Linked DNA regions of Homo sapiens: region 1 is linked to region 2. Evidence: fine-mapped expression QTL. A gene starts in region 2. The other region holds a variant in brackets. All regions are shown on one strand. Distances are from middle to middle. Region 1 has its middle 6.3 kb from the start of APOC4. Region 2 holds the start of APOE (apolipoprotein E).

Region 1 (5,512 bases), 30 kb after region 2:
TCACACATGTTATCCCAGCACTTTCGGAGGTCGAGGCAGGAGGATCACTTGAGGCCAGGAGTTGGAGACCATCCTGGCCAACATGGTGAAACCCCGTATCTACTAAAAATACAAAAAAAATCAGCCAGGCATGGTGGCGGGTGCCTGTAAACCCAGCTACTCAAGAGGCTGAGGCAGGAGAATCACTGGAACCCAGGAGGCGGAGGCTGCACTGAGCAGAGATCGTGCCGTTGCACTCCAGCCTGGGCGACAAGAACAAAACTCCATCTCAAAAAATAAAAAAAGGAACTCCTGAAGCCAGGCTCGGTGGCTCCCACCTGTAATCCCAGCACTTTGGGATGCCAAGGCAGGAGGATCACTCGAGGCCAGGAGTTGGAGACTATCCTGTCCAACATGGTGAAACCCTATCTCTACTAAAAATGCAAACATTAGCCAGGCATGGTGGCGTGTGCCTGTAATCCCAGCTACTTGGGAGGCTGAGGCGTGAGAATAGCTTGAACCAGGAGGTAGAGACTGCAGTGAGCTGAGATCATGCCACTGCACTCCAGCCTGGGCGTCAGAGCAAGACTCCATCTCAAAACATAAAAGGAAATCCTGGGCCGAGCGCAGTGACTCACGCCTGTAATCCCAGCACTTTGGGAGGCCGAGGCAGGTGGATCACAAGGTCAGGAGATCGAGACCATCCTGGCTAACATGGTGAAACACTGTCTCTACTAAAAATACAAAAAATTAGCTGGGCATGGTGGCGGGCGCCTATAGTCCCAGCTATTCGGGAGGCTGAGGCAGGAGAATGGCGTGAACCCGGGAGGCAGAGCTTGCAGTGAGCCAATATTGCGCCATGCATTCCAGCCTGGATGACAGAGTGAGACTGTGTCTCAGGAGAAAAAAAAAAAAAAAAAAGGAAATCCTGAACCTGGGCATAGTGTCTTATGCCTGTAATCCCAGCACTTTGGAAGGCTGAGATGGGAGGATCAGTTGAGGTCAGGAGTTCAAGACCAGCCTGGGTAACATGGTGAGACACCGTCTCTACCAAAAAAAGAAGAAAGAAAGAGAATAAATAAATTATAAATATTACTCTCTGGGGTTAATGCATTCCCTTCTCCCCCAAAATCAACCCTCCAAACTCCTATACTCTCCTTTCTTCTCACTCAGCAGCCTGTTAGAACTCAAGTCAGATTTTTTGTTTTTTTGTTTTTTGAGGCGGAGTCTCACTCTGTTGCCCAGGCTGGAGTACAGTGGCACCATCTCAGTCCACTGCAACCTCTGCCTCCCAGGTTCAAGCGATTCTCCTGCTCAGCCTCCCAATTAGCTGGGACTACAGGTGTGTGTGTGTCACCACACCCAGCTAATTTTTGTATTTGTAGTAGAGACGGGGTTTCACCATGTTGCCCAGGCTGGTCTCAAACTGCCCAGCTCTAGCGATCTACCCTCCTCGGCCTCCCAAAGTGCTGGGGTTACAGGCATGAGCCACCGTGCCCAGCCTCAAGTCAGATTATGCTCTTCCTCTGCTCAGAACTCTCCTGATTCTCTCAGAGCAAACCCAGAAGAACTTACCAAAGGCCTACAAACAGGACACTACCCGGTTCACGATCGCCTCATCCCTCTCTCTCCATCACTCACAAGCAACTCCTTGCTATTCCTCCAATGTACTGGGCAGGTTCCCACCTCAGGGCCCTTGCAGTTACTGTTCCTCTTGCCTGGAATGTTCTTCCCCAGGGGTCCAGATATCTGCCTGGCTCCCTCCTCACTTCCTCCAGTTCTCTTCCAAAATCATCCCCTGCCAGACATAGTGGCACACTCCTGTAATCCTAACCTTTGAGAGGCCAAGATGGGAGGATTGCTTCAGCTCAGAGGTTCAAGACCAGCCTGGGCAACATAGCAAGACCCCATCCCTCCTAAAAAAAATTAGCTGGGCATGGTGGTGCACACTTGTGGTTCCAGCCACTTGGGAGGCTGAGGTAGGAGGATGGCTTTGAATCAGGGAGGTTGAGGCTGCAGTGAGCCATGTTCCAAATTAGATAGTGGTGATTGTGCAACCTTGCCAATATAGGAAAAACCATTGAACTGTACACTTTAAAAGGGTAAATTTAGCAGGACGCGGTGGCTCACGCCTGTAATCCCAGCACTTTGGGAGTCCGAGGCGGGCAGATCACTTGAGCTCAAGAGTTCGAAACCAACCTGACCAACATGGTGAAACTCCATCTTTACGAAAAATTAAAAAATTAGCCAGGCGTGGTGGCAAGTGCCTGTAGTCTCAGCTACTTGGGACGCTGAGGCGGGAGAATTTCTTGAACCTGCGGGGCAGAGGCTACAGTGAGCTGAGATTGCCCCACTGCACTCCAGCCTGGGCAACAGAGTGAGACTCCATCTCAAAAAAAAAAAAAAAAAAAAAGAAAAAGAAAAAAGGGTAAATTTTATGGAATGTGAATTATAACTCAATTTTTCAACATGCATTAGGAGGGACATTTCAAACCCTTTTTTACCCCAGCCTTCCCTGCAATCACCCAGAGTATCCAGCCAGGAGGGGAGTGGCTAGAGACACCAGAAGATTAGCAGGGAGGAGGGTGCAGGGTTTCGGGGGATGAGGGGATGGGATTCAGACCAGGGTAAGGATCCAGGGGTAGAGAGAAAGATTTGAGAGTGGTTTTGGGGCTTGGTGACTTAGAGAACAGAGTTGCAGGCTCTGTTTTTGGGCCCGCCCTGCCCC[C/G]TTCCGACCTCTTAGTTCCTATCCTCCAGCAGCTGTTTGTGTGCTGCCTCTGAAGTCCACCCTGAATGACCTTCAGCCTGTTCCCGTCCCTGATATGGGCAAACATTGCAAGCAGCAAACAGCAAACACATAGCCCTCCCTGCGTGCTGACCTTGGAGCTGCGGCAGAGGTCAGAGACCTCTCAGGGCCCATACCACTTCCAACATCCCCTTGATCTCTTGGATTTTGGTGGAGAGGGGCAGAGGTTGTCCTGGCCTGGTTAGGTAGTGTGAGAGGGTCCCGGTTCAAAACCACCACTTGCTGGTTGAGGAGTCGTCAGTAAGTGGCTGCGCCCCCACCCTGAGGCTTGTTTCTCCATCTGTACAATGGAAATGATGAAGATGCCCACCTGATAGGGTTTTTGTGGCAAATAAGTAAGTAGTTTTTTTGTTTTTCTTTTTCTTTTTTTTTTTTTTTTTTTGAGATGGAGTCTCACTCTGTCACCAGGCTGGAGCGCAGTGGCGTGATCTCGGCTCACTGCCAACTCCACCTCCCGGGTTCAAGCGATTCTCCTGCCTCAGCCTCTGAGTAGCTAGGACTACAGGCGCCCGCCACCACACCCAGCTAATTTTTGCATTTTTAGTAGAGATGGGGTTTCACCATGTTGGCCAGGATGGTCTCAATCTCTTGACCTTGTGATCCACCTGCCTCGGCCTCCCAAAGTGCTGGGATTACAGGCATGAGCCACCACGCCCAGCTCCCCCACCTTTTTTTTTTTTTGAGATGGAAAGCTCTGTCACCCAGGCTAGAGTGCATTGAGCCATCTTGGCTCTCTGCAACTTCTGCCTCCCGGGTTCAAGCAATTCTCCTGCCTCAGGCTCCCAAGTAGCTGGGATTACAGGCGCCCACAACCATGCCTGGCTAATTTTTGTATTTTTAGTGGAGACAGAGTTTCACTATATTGGCCAGGCTGATCTCGAACTCCTGACCTCAAGTGATCTGCCTGTGTCAGCCTCCCAAAGTGCTGTGATTACAGGCATGAGCCACCATGCCCCACCGCAATTAAGTAAAGTAATCATCTAAAAGCCCTGCCATGGTTCCTGCCACACAGTGTGTGCTGGGGAAGCGCGCACGAATTAAACAGTAGCTGGCGTTGACGGGGCACCTATGCGGCATTTTCTGTGCACGATCTTTACTCTCCCTGGCAACCCTATGAGGTAGATAGTCCATGACTCCCATTCATGGATGAAGAAACAGGCCCACACAGGTAAAGCAACTTGTACCAGGTCATACCGCTAGAAAGATGTAGAGTCAGCCACGCGCGGTGGCTCATGCCTATAATCCCAGCACTTTCGGAGGCTGAGGCGGGATGATCACTTGAGGTCAGGGGTTCGTAACCAGCCTGGCCAACATGGTGAAACCCCGTCTCTACTAAAAATACAAAAATTAGCTGGGCGTGGTGGCGGACGCCTGTAATCCCAGCTACTCAGGAGGCTGAGGCAGAAGAATTGCTTGAACCCGGGAGACAGAGGTTGCAGTGAGCTGAGATCACGTCACTGCACTCCAGCCTGGGTGACTGAGCAAGACTCCATCTCAAAAAGAAAAAAAAACAGGCCAGGAGCAGTGGCTTACACCTGTAATCCCAGCACTTTGGGAGGCCAAGGCGTGTGGATTGCCTGAGGTCAGGAGTTCAAGACCAGCCTGGCCAACGTGGTGAAACCCTGTCTATACTAAAAATGCAAAAATTAGCTGGGTGTGGTGGCAGGCGCCTGTAGTCCCAGCTACTCGGGAGGCTCAGGTAGGAGAATTGCTTGAACCCAGGAGATGGAGGTTGCAGTGAGCCGAGATCGCGCCACTGCACTCCAACATGGGCAATAGAGCAAGACTCCATCTCAAAAAACAAAGAAGGGAGGGAGGGAAGGAAAGAAAGGAAAAGAAGCAACAGGTAGAGTCAGGCTCTGAACCCCACACCAATCATAACACAACACACAGTAGGTTTGTTTTTGTTTTTTATTTTGGGCTTTTGTTTGTTGTGGAGACAGCGTCACCCAGGCTGTAATGCAATGGTACAATCATAGCTCACTGTAGCCCTGAACTCCTAGACTCAAACAATCCTCCCACCTCGGCCTCCTGAGTAGCTGGGACTACAGGGGCATGCCACCACGCCTAGCTAAATTTTTTTTTTTTATTTTTAGTAGAGATGAGGTCTCCCTATGTTGCCCAGATTAGTGTCTTAACTCCTGGGCTCAGGTGATCCTGCCACCAGGGATTACAGGCACGAGCCACCATGCTGGCCCTTGTTTTTTGTTGTTTTTTTTTTTTTTTTTTGAGACGGAGTCTCGCTTTGTCGCCCAGGCTGGAGTGCAGTGGCGGGATCTCGGCTCACTGCAAGCTCCGCCTCCCGGGTTCACGCCATTCTCCTGCCTCAGCCTCCCAAGTAGCTGGGACTACAGGCGCCCGCCACTATGACCGGCTAATTTTTTTGTATTTTTAGTAGAGACGGGGTTTCACCGTTTTAGCCGGGATGGTCTCGATCTCCTGACCTCGTGATCCGCCCGCCTCGGCCTCCCAAAGTGCTGGGATTACAGGCGTGAGCCACCGCGCCCGGCCTGTTTTTTTTTTTTTTTTTGAGACTGAGTCTCGCACTGTCGCCCAGGCTGGAGTGCAGTGGCGCGATCTCGGCTCACTGCAACCTCCACCTTCCAGGTTCAAGCAATTCTCCTGCCTCAGCCTCCTGAGTAGCTGAGATTACAGGTGCCCACCACGATGCCCAGCTAACTTTTTTTTTTTTTTTGGTATTTTTAGTAGAGACGGGGGTTTCACCAT
Region 2 (5,209 bases):
TCCCTCCCCCCTTGGGGGTCGGGGGGGACATTGGAAAGGAGGGACCCCGCCACCCCAGCAGCTGAGGAGGGGATTCTGGAACTGAATGGCGCTTCGGGATTCTGAGTAGCAGGGGCAGCATGCCCAGTGGGCCTGGGGTCCCGGGAGGGATTCCGGAATTGAGGGGCACGCAGGATTCTGAGCACCAGGGGCAGAGGCGGCCAGACAACCTCAGGGAGGAGTGTCCTGGCGTCCCCATCCTCCAAAGGGCCTGGGCCCGCCCCGAGGGGGCAGCGAGAGGAGCTTCCCCATCCCCGGTCAGTCCACCCTGCCCCGTCCACTTTCCCATCTCCTCGGTATAAATCATGTTTATAAGTTATGGAAGAACCGGGACATTTTACAGAAAAAAAACAAAAAACAACAAAAAATATACGTGGGAAAAAAAACGATGGGAGGCCTCCGTTTTCTCAAGTGTGTCTGGCCTGTTTTGAGCATTTCATCCGGAGTCTGGCCGCCCTGACCTTCCCCCAGCCGCCTGCAGGGGGCGCCAGAGGGCCGGAGCACGGAAAGCAGCGGATCCTTGATGCTGCCTTAAGTCCGGCTCAGAGGGGCGCAGCGTGGCCTGGGGTCGCTATCTTCCCATCCGGAACATCTGCCCTGCTGGGGGACACTACGGGCCTTCCCTTGCCTGAGGGTAGGGTCTCAAGGTCACTTGCCCCCAGCTTGACCTGGCCGGAGTGGCTATAGAGGACTTTGTCCCTGCAGACTGCAGCAGCAGAGATGACACTGTCTCTGAGTGCAGAGATGGGGGCAGGGAGCTGGGAGAGGGTTCAAGCTACTGGAACAGCTTCAGAACAACTAGGGTACTAGGAACTGCTGTGTCAGGGAGAAGGGGCTCAAGGACTCGCAGGCCTGGGAGGAGGGGCCTAGGCCAGCCATGGGAGTTGGGTCACCTGTGTCTGAGGACTTGGTGCTGTCTGGATTTTGCCAACCTAGGGCTGGGGTCAGCTGATGCCCACCACGACTCCCGAGCCTCCAGGAACTGAAACCCTGTCTGCCCCCAGGGTCTGGGGAAGGAGGCTGCTGAGTAGAACCAACCCCAGGTTACCAACCCCACCTCAGCCACCCCTTGCCAGCCAAAGCAAACAGGCCCGGCCCGGCACTGGGGGTTCCTTCTCGAACCAGGAGTTCAGCCTCCCCTGACCCGCAGAATCTTCTGATCCCACCCGCTCCAGGAGCCAGGAATGAGTCCCAGTCTCTCCCAGTTCTCACTGTGTGGTTTTGCCATTCGTCTTGCTGCTGAACCACGGGTTTCTCCTCTGAAACATCTGGGATTTATAACAGGGCTTAGGAAAGTGACAGCGTCTGAGCGTTCACTGTGGCCTGTCCATTGCTAGCCCTAACATAGGACCGCTGTGTGCCAGGGCTGTCCTCCATGCTCAATACACGTTAGCTTGTCACCAAACATACCCGTGCCGCTGCTTTCCCAGTCTGATGAGCAAAGGAACTTGATGCTCAGAGAGGACAAGTCATTTGCCCAAGGTCACACAGCTGGCAACTGGCAGAGCCAGGATTCACGCCCTGGCAATTTGACTCCAGAATCCTAACCTTAACCCAGAAGCACGGCTTCAAGCCCCTGGAAACCACAATACCTGTGGCAGCCAGGGGGAGGTGCTGGAATCTCATTTCACATGTGGGGAGGGGGCTCCCCTGTGCTCAAGGTCACAACCAAAGAGGAAGCTGTGATTAAAACCCAGGTCCCATTTGCAAAGCCTCGACTTTTAGCAGGTGCATCATACTGTTCCCACCCCTCCCATCCCACTTCTGTCCAGCCGCCTAGCCCCACTTTCTTTTTTTTCTTTTTTTGAGACAGTCTCCCTCTTGCTGAGGCTGGAGTGCAGTGGCGAGATCTCGGCTCACTGTAACCTCCGCCTCCCGGGTTCAAGCGATTCTCCTGCCTCAGCCTCCCAAGTAGCTAGGATTACAGGCGCCCGCCACCACGCCTGGCTAACTTTTGTATTTTTAGTAGAGATGGGGTTTCACCATGTTGGCCAGGCTGGTCTCAAACTCCTGACCTTAAGTGATTCGCCCACTGTGGCCTCCCAAAGTGCTGGGATTACAGGCGTGAGCTACCGCCCCCAGCCCCTCCCATCCCACTTCTGTCCAGCCCCCTAGCCCTACTTTCTTTCTGGGATCCAGGAGTCCAGATCCCCAGCCCCCTCTCCAGATTACATTCATCCAGGCACAGGAAAGGACAGGGTCAGGAAAGGAGGACTCTGGGCGGCAGCCTCCACATTCCCCTTCCACGCTTGGCCCCCAGAATGGAGGAGGGTGTCTGTATTACTGGGCGAGGTGTCCTCCCTTCCTGGGGACTGTGGGGGGTGGTCAAAAGACCTCTATGCCCCACCTCCTTCCTCCCTCTGCCCTGCTGTGCCTGGGGCAGGGGGAGAACAGCCCACCTCGTGACTGGGGGCTGGCCCAGCCCGCCCTATCCCTGGGGGAGGGGGCGGGACAGGGGGAGCCCTATAATTGGACAAGTCTGGGATCCTTGAGTCCTACTCAGCCCCAGCGGAGGTGAAGGACGTCCTTCCCCAGGAGCCGGTGAGAAGCGCAGTCGGGGGCACGGGGATGAGCTCAGGGGCCTCTAGAAAGAGCTGGGACCCTGGGAACCCCTGGCCTCCAGGTAGTCTCAGGAGAGCTACTCGGGGTCGGGCTTGGGGAGAGGAGGAGCGGGGGTGAGGCAAGCAGCAGGGGACTGGACCTGGGAAGGGCTGGGCAGCAGAGACGACCCGACCCGCTAGAAGGTGGGGTGGGGAGAGCAGCTGGACTGGGATGTAAGCCATAGCAGGACTCCACGAGTTGTCACTATCATTTATCGAGCACCTACTGGGTGTCCCCAGTGTCCTCAGATCTCCATAACTGGGGAGCCAGGGGCAGCGACACGGTAGCTAGCCGTCGATTGGAGAACTTTAAAATGAGGACTGAATTAGCTCATAAATGGAACACGGCGCTTAACTGTGAGGTTGGAGCTTAGAATGTGAAGGGAGAATGAGGAATGCGAGACTGGGACTGAGATGGAACCGGCGGTGGGGAGGGGGTGGGGGGATGGAATTTGAACCCCGGGAGAGGAAGATGGAATTTTCTATGGAGGCCGACCTGGGGATGGGGAGATAAGAGAAGACCAGGAGGGAGTTAAATAGGGAATGGGTTGGGGGCGGCTTGGTAAATGTGCTGGGATTAGGCTGTTGCAGATAATGCAACAAGGCTTGGAAGGCTAACCTGGGGTGAGGCCGGGTTGGGGCCGGGCTGGGGGTGGGAGGAGTCCTCACTGGCGGTTGATTGACAGTTTCTCCTTCCCCAGACTGGCCAATCACAGGCAGGAAGATGAAGGTTCTGTGGGCTGCGTTGCTGGTCACATTCCTGGCAGGTATGGGGGCGGGGCTTGCTCGGTTCCCCCCGCTCCTCCCCCTCTCATCCTCACCTCAACCTCCTGGCCCCATTCAGGCAGACCCTGGGCCCCCTCTTCTGAGGCTTCTGTGCTGCTTCCTGGCTCTGAACAGCGATTTGACGCTCTCTGGGCCTCGGTTTCCCCCATCCTTGAGATAGGAGTTAGAAGTTGTTTTGTTGTTGTTGTTTGTTGTTGTTGTTTTGTTTTTTTGAGATGAAGTCTCGCTCTGTCGCCCAGGCTGGAGTGCAGTGGCGGGATCTCGGCTCACTGCAAGCTCCGCCTCCCAGGTCCACGCCATTCTCCTGCCTCAGCCTCCCAAGTAGCTGGGACTACAGGCACATGCCACCACACCCGACTAACTTTTTTGTATTTTCAGTAGAGACGGGGTTTCACCATGTTGGCCAGGCTGGTCTGGAACTCCTGACCTCAGGTGATCTGCCCGTTTCGATCTCCCAAAGTGCTGGGATTACAGGCGTGAGCCACCGCACCTGGCTGGGAGTTAGAGGTTTCTAATGCATTGCAGGCAGATAGTGAATACCAGACACGGGGCAGCTGTGATCTTTATTCTCCATCACCCCCACACAGCCCTGCCTGGGGCACACAAGGACACTCAATACATGCTTTTCCGCTGGGCGCGGTGGCTCACCCCTGTAATCCCAGCACTTTGGGAGGCCAAGGTGGGAGGATCACTTGAGCCCAGGAGTTCAACACCAGCCTGGGCAACATAGTGAGACCCTGTCTCTACTAAAAATACAAAAATTAGCCAGGCATGGTGCCACACACCTGTGCTCTCAGCTACTCAGGAGGCTGAGGCAGGAGGATCGCTTGAGCCCAGAAGGTCAAGGTTGCAGTGAACCATGTTCAGGCCGCTGCACTCCAGCCTGGGTGACAGAGCAAGACCCTGTTTATAAATACATAATGCTTTCCAAGTGATTAAACCGACTCCCCCCTCACCCTGCCCACCATGGCTCCAAAGAAGCATTTGTGGAGCACCTTCTGTGTGCCCCTAGGTACTAGATGCCTGGACGGGGTCAGAAGGACCCTGACCCACCTTGAACTTGTTCCACACAGGATGCCAGGCCAAGGTGGAGCAAGCGGTGGAGACAGAGCCGGAGCCCGAGCTGCGCCAGCAGACCGAGTGGCAGAGCGGCCAGCGCTGGGAACTGGCACTGGGTCGCTTTTGGGATTACCTGCGCTGGGTGCAGACACTGTCTGAGCAGGTGCAGGAGGAGCTGCTCAGCTCCCAGGTCACCCAGGAACTGAGGTGAGTGTCCCCATCCTGGCCCTTGACCCTCCTGGTGGGCGGCTATACCTCCCCAGGTCCAGGTTTCATTCTGCCCCTGTCGCTAAGTCTTGGGGGGCCTGGGTCTCTGCTGGTTCTAGCTTCCTCTTCCCATTTCTGACTCCTGGCTTTAGCTCTCTGGAATTCTCTCTCTCAGCTTTGTCTCTCTCTCTTCCCTTCTGACTCAGTCTCTCACACTCGTCCTGGCTCTGTCTCTGTCCTTCCCTAGCTCTTTTATATAGAGACAGAGAGATGGGGTCTCACTGTGTTGCCCAGGCTGGTCTTGAACTTCTGGGCTCAAGCGATCCTCCCGCCTCGGCCTCCCAAAGTGCTGGGATTAGAGGCATGAGCCACCTTGCCCGGCCTCCTAGCTCCTTCTTCGTCTCTGCCTCTGCCCTCTGCATCTGCTCTCTGCATCTGTCTCTGTCTCCTTCTCTCGGCCTCTGCCCCGTTCCTTCTCTCCCTCTTGGGTCTCTCTGGCTCATCCCCATCTCGCCCGC

What was found. PIP is the estimated chance that this variant, and not a neighbour inherited with it, causes the effect.
Region 1: its variant is fine-mapped to the expression of APOE in ovary (GTEx, PIP above 0.99). The same link has a PIP of 0.9 or more in esophagus muscle, lung, prostate, testis and tibial nerve.

What each region holds. Positions count from the first base shown.
Region 1 is chr19:44,933,199-44,938,710 of GRCh38, forward strand. No RefSeq gene overlaps it. Among named protein-coding and RNA genes, the nearest start is that of APOC4, 6.3 kb to the right of the region's middle. The variant C/G (reference allele first, on the strand shown) is at 2,708.
Region 2 is chr19:44,903,262-44,908,470 of GRCh38, forward strand. APOE (apolipoprotein E) reads left to right here and starts at 2,535. Exons shown (of 4, transcript NM_000041.4): 1 at 2,535-2,580; 2 at 3,341-3,406; 3 at 4,499-4,691. The coding sequence starts at 3,364. TOMM40 (translocase of outer mitochondrial membrane 40) reads left to right here. Exons shown (of 9, transcript NM_001128917.2): 9 at 1-428. RefSeq lists enhancers at 1,852-2,654, 3,457-4,259.